Linked DNA regions of Homo sapiens. The protein of the gene in region 1 interacts with the protein of each later gene in a biochemical or structural test. Each region holds a gene or a part of one and is shown on either strand. Other genes may lie near its edges. The genes, in order: KIF20A and RAB6A.

Region 1 (3,374 bases):
TGTAGCTAGTCACTAGTAGAGTTAGGACCTGAGTCTAGATCCATGTATCTCCAAAGCCCATACTTGTGGGCCATTATATTGCCCCATTGTGTGTGCAGCATCAGGCCTAGGGCATAGCATTCCTTAAGTGTTTGTTGATTTGGTGGAAAGATGGACTAGCAGAGAGTGCTTGAGTCCTCAGTGTTTAGGGAACAGCCAGCAGCATTGCAGGAAGAAGCTGCTTGAGTGGTCTCCAGAGCCAACCACTCAGGAAGGAATATATCTGCTGGCTCTGCACAGGAGGCAAGTGGGAGATGAAGGAGAGGCCTCTAAAAAACTGGGTCTCTCTCTAGATCTTTGGGCCAGAAGTGGGACAGGCATCCTTCTTCAACCTAACTGTGAAGGAGATGGTAAAGGATGTACTCAAAGGGCAGAACTGGCTCATCTATACATATGGAGTCACTAACTCAGGGAAAACCCACACGATTCAAGGTGAGTAGTAAGCCTTCACGGGATTCCTGATTGGCTGGTAATGGTGTTGTTTTTACCTTTTGAGACTCTGAGTTAGGGGGAGAAGGGCACTTGCCTCAGCTGTCCATCTTTCATATGCCTCCAGGTACCATCAAGGATGGAGGGATTCTCCCCCGGTCCCTGGCGCTGATCTTCAATAGCCTCCAAGGCCAACTTCATCCAACACCTGATCTGAAGCCCTTGCTCTCCAATGAGGTAATCTGGCTAGACAGCAAGCAGATCCGACAGGAGGAAATGAAGAAGCTGTCCCTGCTAAATGGAGGCCTCCAAGAGGTAAAGCATTGGTATCCATGGCAGTGGGGGTAGGGGGTACAAATCTCGGGGAAGTTTTGTGCTTACCTTCTCCCTGTGCCCCTCCAGGAGGAGCTGTCCACTTCCTTGAAGAGGAGTGTCTACATCGAAAGTCGGATAGGTACCAGCACCAGCTTCGACAGTGGCATTGCTGGGCTCTCTTCTATCAGTCAGTGTACCAGCAGTAGCCAGCTGGATGGTATGTACCGTGACTGGGCTCTGCCAAAAAATAGTAGGAACTCACTCCCTGTTCCTAATAGCTGCCAGGAGTACAGACCAGAGGTTGCAATCTAAGGTCTGCCTTCCAAGGCCCCTGCAGGCCAAAAGAGAGGTGAACTGCTCTAGGTTGATGCCCTATACATTGGCTTCTTCTCCAGAAACAAGTCATCGATGGGCACAGCCAGACACTGCCCCACTACCTGTCCCGGCAAACATTCGCTTCTCCATCTGGATCTCATTCTTTGAGATCTACAACGAACTGCTTTATGACCTATTAGAACCGCCTAGCCAACAGCGCAAGAGGCAGACTTTGCGGCTATGCGAGGATCAAAATGGCAATCCCTATGTGAAAGGTAAAGGAACATGGGGAAAGCTGGCATGAACCCTGGAGGGCAACTGGGGAGAGACTGGCAAAAGAGTTGGATGTTCCCATCTTACACCCCTCTCCTTTGGCCCCAGATCTCAACTGGATTCATGTGCAAGATGCTGAGGAGGCCTGGAAGCTCCTAAAAGTGGGTCGTAAGAACCAGAGCTTTGCCAGCACCCACCTCAACCAGAACTCCAGCCGCAGGTGAGTAGATTGTAAGAATAAACTCTTCACTGTGTTCCAGGAAACATTAGTCCTCTGCCTGGTCATGGAAAATGTGCAATGACTTTTTGTTTTTCTTAACTTCCAGTCACAGCATCTTCTCAATCAGGATCCTACACCTTCAGGGGGAAGGAGATATAGTCCCCAAGATCAGCGAGTAAGTTTATCCATTTAGAAATTTGGGCTTCTTGGCCATAAATGATAGTTGGGAAAGCATGGAGGAGGTCCTCAGGGGAACTATGTGTTCTCCTTCTTTGGGTACAGAGATTCTTAGTGGGCCGTCCCCTCTCCAGAATTATACAAAGGGCCAGAAGGCTCATAACATGTGAGGCCCTTATGTCAGATCCTGTGCATCATTCTAGGCTGTCACTCTGTGATCTGGCTGGCTCAGAGCGCTGCAAAGATCAGAAGAGTGGTGAACGGTTGAAGGAAGCAGGAAACATTAACACCTCTCTACACACCCTGGGCCGCTGTATTGCTGCCCTTCGTCAAAACCAGCAGAACCGGTGAGCTTTTGACTATAATTCCTGGGCTCTGCAATTTGCTAAGAGACTTCCTGGACACCACTGGGGATGGTGCTAGGATACCCAAAGGGCTGGTGTTCTGCTCACAGCTCTATTATCTCTGATTCTCTGCCAGGTCAAAGCAGAACCTGGTTCCCTTCCGTGACAGCAAGTTGACTCGAGTGTTCCAAGGTTTCTTCACAGGCCGAGGCCGTTCCTGCATGATTGTCAATGTGAATCCCTGTGCATCTACCTATGATGAAACTCTTCATGTGGCCAAGTTCTCAGCCATTGCTAGCCAGGTGAGAAGCTAGAGGTGTGATGGGTGTGCGCACTTGGAACTGGTAACTCTAAGAAAGCTCCTAGGGACTACTTATGGAGTCAAGTAAGATATTTTTTTTCCCTCTAGCTTGTGCATGCCCCACCTATGCAACTGGGATTCCCATCCCTGCACTCGTTCATCAAGGAACATAGTCTTCAGGTATCCCCCAGCTTAGAGAAAGGGGCTAAGGCAGACACAGGCCTTGATGATGATATTGAAAATGAAGCTGACATCTCCATGTATGGCAAAGAGGTGAGAATACAAGAAAGCTTTAGTGTAGCAGCTTAGTAGCTACACATTTTTCCATGGTGCCTTCCAGGTGGGCTTGTGCCTTCTGAGGGCATGAGCATCTGATGACCTCTGACATGTGTGTCTCTCCTAGGAGCTCCTACAAGTTGTGGAAGCCATGAAGACACTGCTTTTGAAGGAACGACAGGAAAAGCTACAGCTGGAGATGCATCTCCGAGATGAAATTTGCAATGAGATGGTAGAACAGATGCAACAGCGGGAACAGTGGTGCAGGTACTAGCTGAGTGACCCCTCTTGCTCTGTCACCTGAGACAGAGGGTGGGAAGTAAGGAGTTAGGTGGAGTTGTGCCTCAAGATCTGTTCCCCAAGTTCACTCCTCAGAACCTTCACTTACCTCTCTTTTCTCCTCTGTTTCTGACAGTGAACATTTGGACACCCAAAAGGAACTATTGGAGGAAATGTATGAAGAAAAACTAAATATCCTCAAGGAGTCACTGACAAGTTTTTACCAAGAAGAGATTCAGGTGAGTTGCCCTGAGCCAGCTCCAATTAGCTGCTCAGATTTCCATCACTAGCTTGCCTGAAGTAAAGAGATTTTATAAACTACTCCAGTAAGGGCAGGAATATATAACTCCCTTTTCTCTATTCCCCATAGTGCTTTGGGTTCAATCTATGTTTGGTGAATTGATTA
Region 2 (3,818 bases), on another chromosome or scaffold:
GATCTCTGTTTTCATGGTCAGTGTCTATAGTTTTCTTATGCGTTAGAAGTCTGTAGACTCCATGTCCTTTTGATGTAACTCTTCATGAATTATTTATTTTTAGGTCTGTTAGAATTCCACAATTCAGCTTTCAAAGACTGTAATCTATGGCAAAGCCTTGTTTCTTCTTAATAGCATTTACCACATTTACAATTATCTTATTTTTTATGTGTTTGTTTTTATTTCCCACAGAAGAATGCAACTCCCATGAAGATAAAAACTATTCTTTTTTGTTCAGTGTGTCCCCATTGCCTAGCGTAGAGCCAGGCTCATAGTAGCTGTTCAGACATGTTGGGTAAATGAATGATGGCTGAATCTAGTAGTAACGAAAGCTAGTAGCCTATGTTACACTCTTTGACATGGTTACGCAATTGATAGTTTAACAATAACACTTAAAACTTACATCATTTGATTGTATACAGGAATATATCAGATACTTAAGGGGGTAGAGAAACCAATCGTTTAGAGGCCCAACCATTTCATTCAAAAAATAGGACTGACCTGAATTTTGTACTTTTTTTTGAGTTGAGCAAAATTCGTCTTCCTTTATTAAAGTTGTTAAATTATTTGCTATTAATGTAACGCATGAAAAGTATTCAAATTATACCAATGATGTGCTCATGGAACTGATTTGAAATTAGGTTTTATTTGGCTTATCAAAAATTTAAGATACTAGGCTGGGTGCGGTGGTTCATGCCTGTAATCCCAGCACTTTGGGAGGCTGAGATAGGTGAATCATCTGAGGTCAGCAGTTCAAGACCAGCCTGGCTAACATGGTGGAGTCCCCGGCTCCCCCCCACCCCATGGCCCGGTCTCTACAAAAATACAAAAATTATCCAGGTATGATGGCGGGTGGGAGCCTGTAATCCCAGCTACTCAGGAGGCTGAGGCAGGAGAATCGCTTGAACCTGAGAGGCGGAGGGTGCAGTGAGCTGAGATCATGCCATTGCACTGCAGCCTGGGTGACAGAGTGAGACTCTGTCTCAAGAAAAAAAAAAAAAAAAAAAAAAAAAAAAATATATATATATATATATATATATATATATATGTATGTATATTTAAGATACTACGCTCTATAGTGAAAATGAATTGTGTCAGTACATGAAGCAGATTGAGTTAATGACATCAATCTTAACCTTAGATAAATTCTTACGGTTTAATAAAGGAATGTTTGGCTGGGCGTGGTGGCTCACGCCTGTAATCCCAGCACTTTAGGAGTCCGAGGCAGGCAAATCACCTGAGGTCAGGAGTTCAAGACCAGCCTGGCCAACATGGCAAAATCCCATCTCTACTAAAAATCCAAAAACTAGCTGGGCGTGGTGGCGTGTGCCTGTAATCCCAGCTACTCAGGAGGCTGAGGCAGGAAAACTGCAACCCAGGAGGTGGAGGTTGCAGTGAACTGAGATTGCCCCACTGCACTCCAGCCTGGGCCTCAGAGCGAGACTTTGTCTCTAAATAAATAAATAAAGGAATGTTGAAATACACAATTGGAAGTTTCCTTGAGGAGTCTGTTTTGTTACTACCTCTGGCTATTGTCTTGAGATGCAGAGGCAGTTTTAGTAATGTCACTCAGTGGTTTACAGTAGAAGATTTCACTATATATACATGTTACCAATTATAAATTAGGAGATGTAATGGCAGAGAGAAGCGCATACTCAGCCTACTACTGTTTTTTTCACTTTATATTGCCTTTTCTTTTTTTCCATCAATGCTGATCAAATTGCAATATGTTAGATAAGGAAAAAATGTCTTATTGTCAGAGACTAGCAGTACTGACCAGTTGTTTTTCTTTTGAGACGGGGTCTACCTCTGTCACTCAGGCTGGAGTGCAGTGGTGTGATCTCAGCTCACTGCACCCTCCACCTCCCAGGCTCAAGTGATCCTCCCACCTCAGCCTCCCAAGTAGCTGGGACAACAGGCACGCACCACCACGCCTGGCTAATTTTTGTATTTTTTTGTAGAGATGGGATTTTACCATGTTGCCCAGGCTGGTCTCAAAGTTTTGAGCTGGCGAGATCCTCCGGCCTCAGCCTCCCAAAGTGCTGGGATTACAGGTGTGAGCCACCACGCCTGGCCAGTACTGAACATTTTATATTGGCTAGATCAGTGGTTTTTAAACTTTTTTTCCCCAAGACCCCTTTCTGCTCTTACAAATTTTTGAGGATCCTGAAGAGCTCTGTTAATGTAGTTGTTATTGTTGTTCTTCTTCCTCCTCCTCCTCTTCTTTCTCCTCCTCCTCTTCTTCCTCCTCCTCTTCCTTCTCCTCCTCCTCTTGTTCTTCTTCCTCCTCCTCCTCTTCTTTCTCTTCCTTCCCCCTTCTCCCTTCCTTCCCCCTTTCCACCTCCCCCTTCCTTTCCTTTTCTCCCTTCCTTCCTCCTTTCCTCTTCCCATTTCCTTCCCCCTTCTTGGATGCAGTGACTGTTCACAGGGGCTATCATGGCCAACTGCAGCCTTGTCTCAAGCTCTCCTCCTGCCTCAGCCTCCCTAGTAGCTGGGACTATAGGCACATGCCACTGTGCCTGACTTTTGTTTATGTAGTTTATGTCAACATTTAGGCCGGGTGCGGTGGCTCACGCCTATAATCCCAGCACTTTGGGAGGCCGAAGTGGGTGGATCACCTGAGGTCAGGGGTTCGAGACCAGCCTGGGCAACATGGCGAAACCCCGTTTCTACTAAAAATACAAAATTAGCCGGGCATGGTGGTGCGTGCCTGTAGTCCCAGCTCTTCGGGAGGCTGAGGCAGGAGCATTGCTTGAACTCGGGAGGTGGAGGTTGCAGTGAGCCAAGATCGTGCCACTGCGCTCCAGCCTGGGCAACAGAGTGAGGCTCCATCTCAAAATAAATGAATAAATATATCAACATTTACTGTATTGAAAAAGAAAATTTCAAAATATTTAATATGTTAAAAAATAATAGGGCCGAGCGTGGTGGCTCATGCTTGTAATCCCAGCATTTTGAGAGGCCGAGGTGGGCGGATCACTTGAGGCCAGAAGTTTGAGACCAACCTGGCCAATATGGTGAAACCCCGTCTCTACTAAAAATACAAAGAAATTAGCCTGGCATGGTGGTGGACGGTCCCAGTGGTAGTGCCAGCTACTCAGGAGGCTGAGGCAGGAGAGTCCCTTGAACCCGGGAGGTGGAGGTTGCAGTGAGCCAAGATCACGCCATTGCACTCCAGCCTGGGCAACGAGCAAAACTCCATCTCAAAAAAATAATAATAATAATAATAAACCCATTGCATGTTAATACCCTTTTTTTTTTTGACTGCATCCCTCTGTTGCCCAGGATGGAGTGAGTGCCTCCCGGGTTCGCGATTCTCATGCCTCAGCCTCCTGAATAGCTGGGACCACAGGTACATGCCGCCATGCCTGGCTAATTTTTTGACTTTTTAGTAGAGACAGGGTTTTGCTATATTGGCCAGGCTGGTCTCAAACTCCTGGCCTCAAGTGACCTGCTTGCCTTGGTCTCCCAAAGTGCTGGGATTACAGGCATGAGCCACTGTGCCCAGCCTTCATGTTAACATCATTTCTGAAATGAAAAAGAACTATTTTCCAAACAGATATTTAGTGAGAGTGACATTGTTTTACATATTTGCAAATCTCTTTAATGTCTGACTTAATAGAGGACAATTGGATTTGCATAGCTGCTTATGCATTCAATCCTGTAATATTACACATCATATAGGCACGGGGAAACTCCACAATACATTTCAAGAGAGTAAGAGTGAAAAATTCAAATAACATCTTAATCTTATGAAAATGGTTTTGACATCCAGGAGT

Evidence for each region.
Region 2: the proteins of KIF20A (region 1) and RAB6A form a complex in vitro, tested with the Homo sapiens proteins (2 studies listed by BioGRID).

What each region holds. Positions count from the first base shown.
Region 1 is NC_000005.10:138,181,991-138,185,364, forward strand, and holds part of KIF20A (kinesin-like protein KIF20A), read left to right. Parts: intron 1-332; coding exon 333-471; intron 472-595; coding exon 596-783; intron 784-870; coding exon 871-1,000; intron 1,001-1,178; coding exon 1,179-1,373; intron 1,374-1,479; coding exon 1,480-1,591; intron 1,592-1,697; coding exon 1,698-1,766; intron 1,767-1,971; coding exon 1,972-2,115; intron 2,116-2,248; coding exon 2,249-2,414; intron 2,415-2,521; coding exon 2,522-2,686; intron 2,687-2,816; coding exon 2,817-2,956; intron 2,957-3,104; coding exon 3,105-3,207; intron 3,208-3,374. UniProt on the Homo sapiens protein: Mitotic kinesin required for chromosome passenger complex (CPC)-mediated cytokinesis. Following phosphorylation by PLK1, involved in recruitment of PLK1 to the central spindle. Interacts with guanosine triphosphate (GTP)-bound forms of RAB6A and RAB6B.
Region 2 is NC_000011.10:73,754,368-73,758,185, reverse strand, and holds part of RAB6A (ras-related protein Rab-6A), read left to right. Parts: intron 1-3,818. UniProt on the Homo sapiens protein: The small GTPases Rab are key regulators of intracellular membrane trafficking, from the formation of transport vesicles to their fusion with membranes.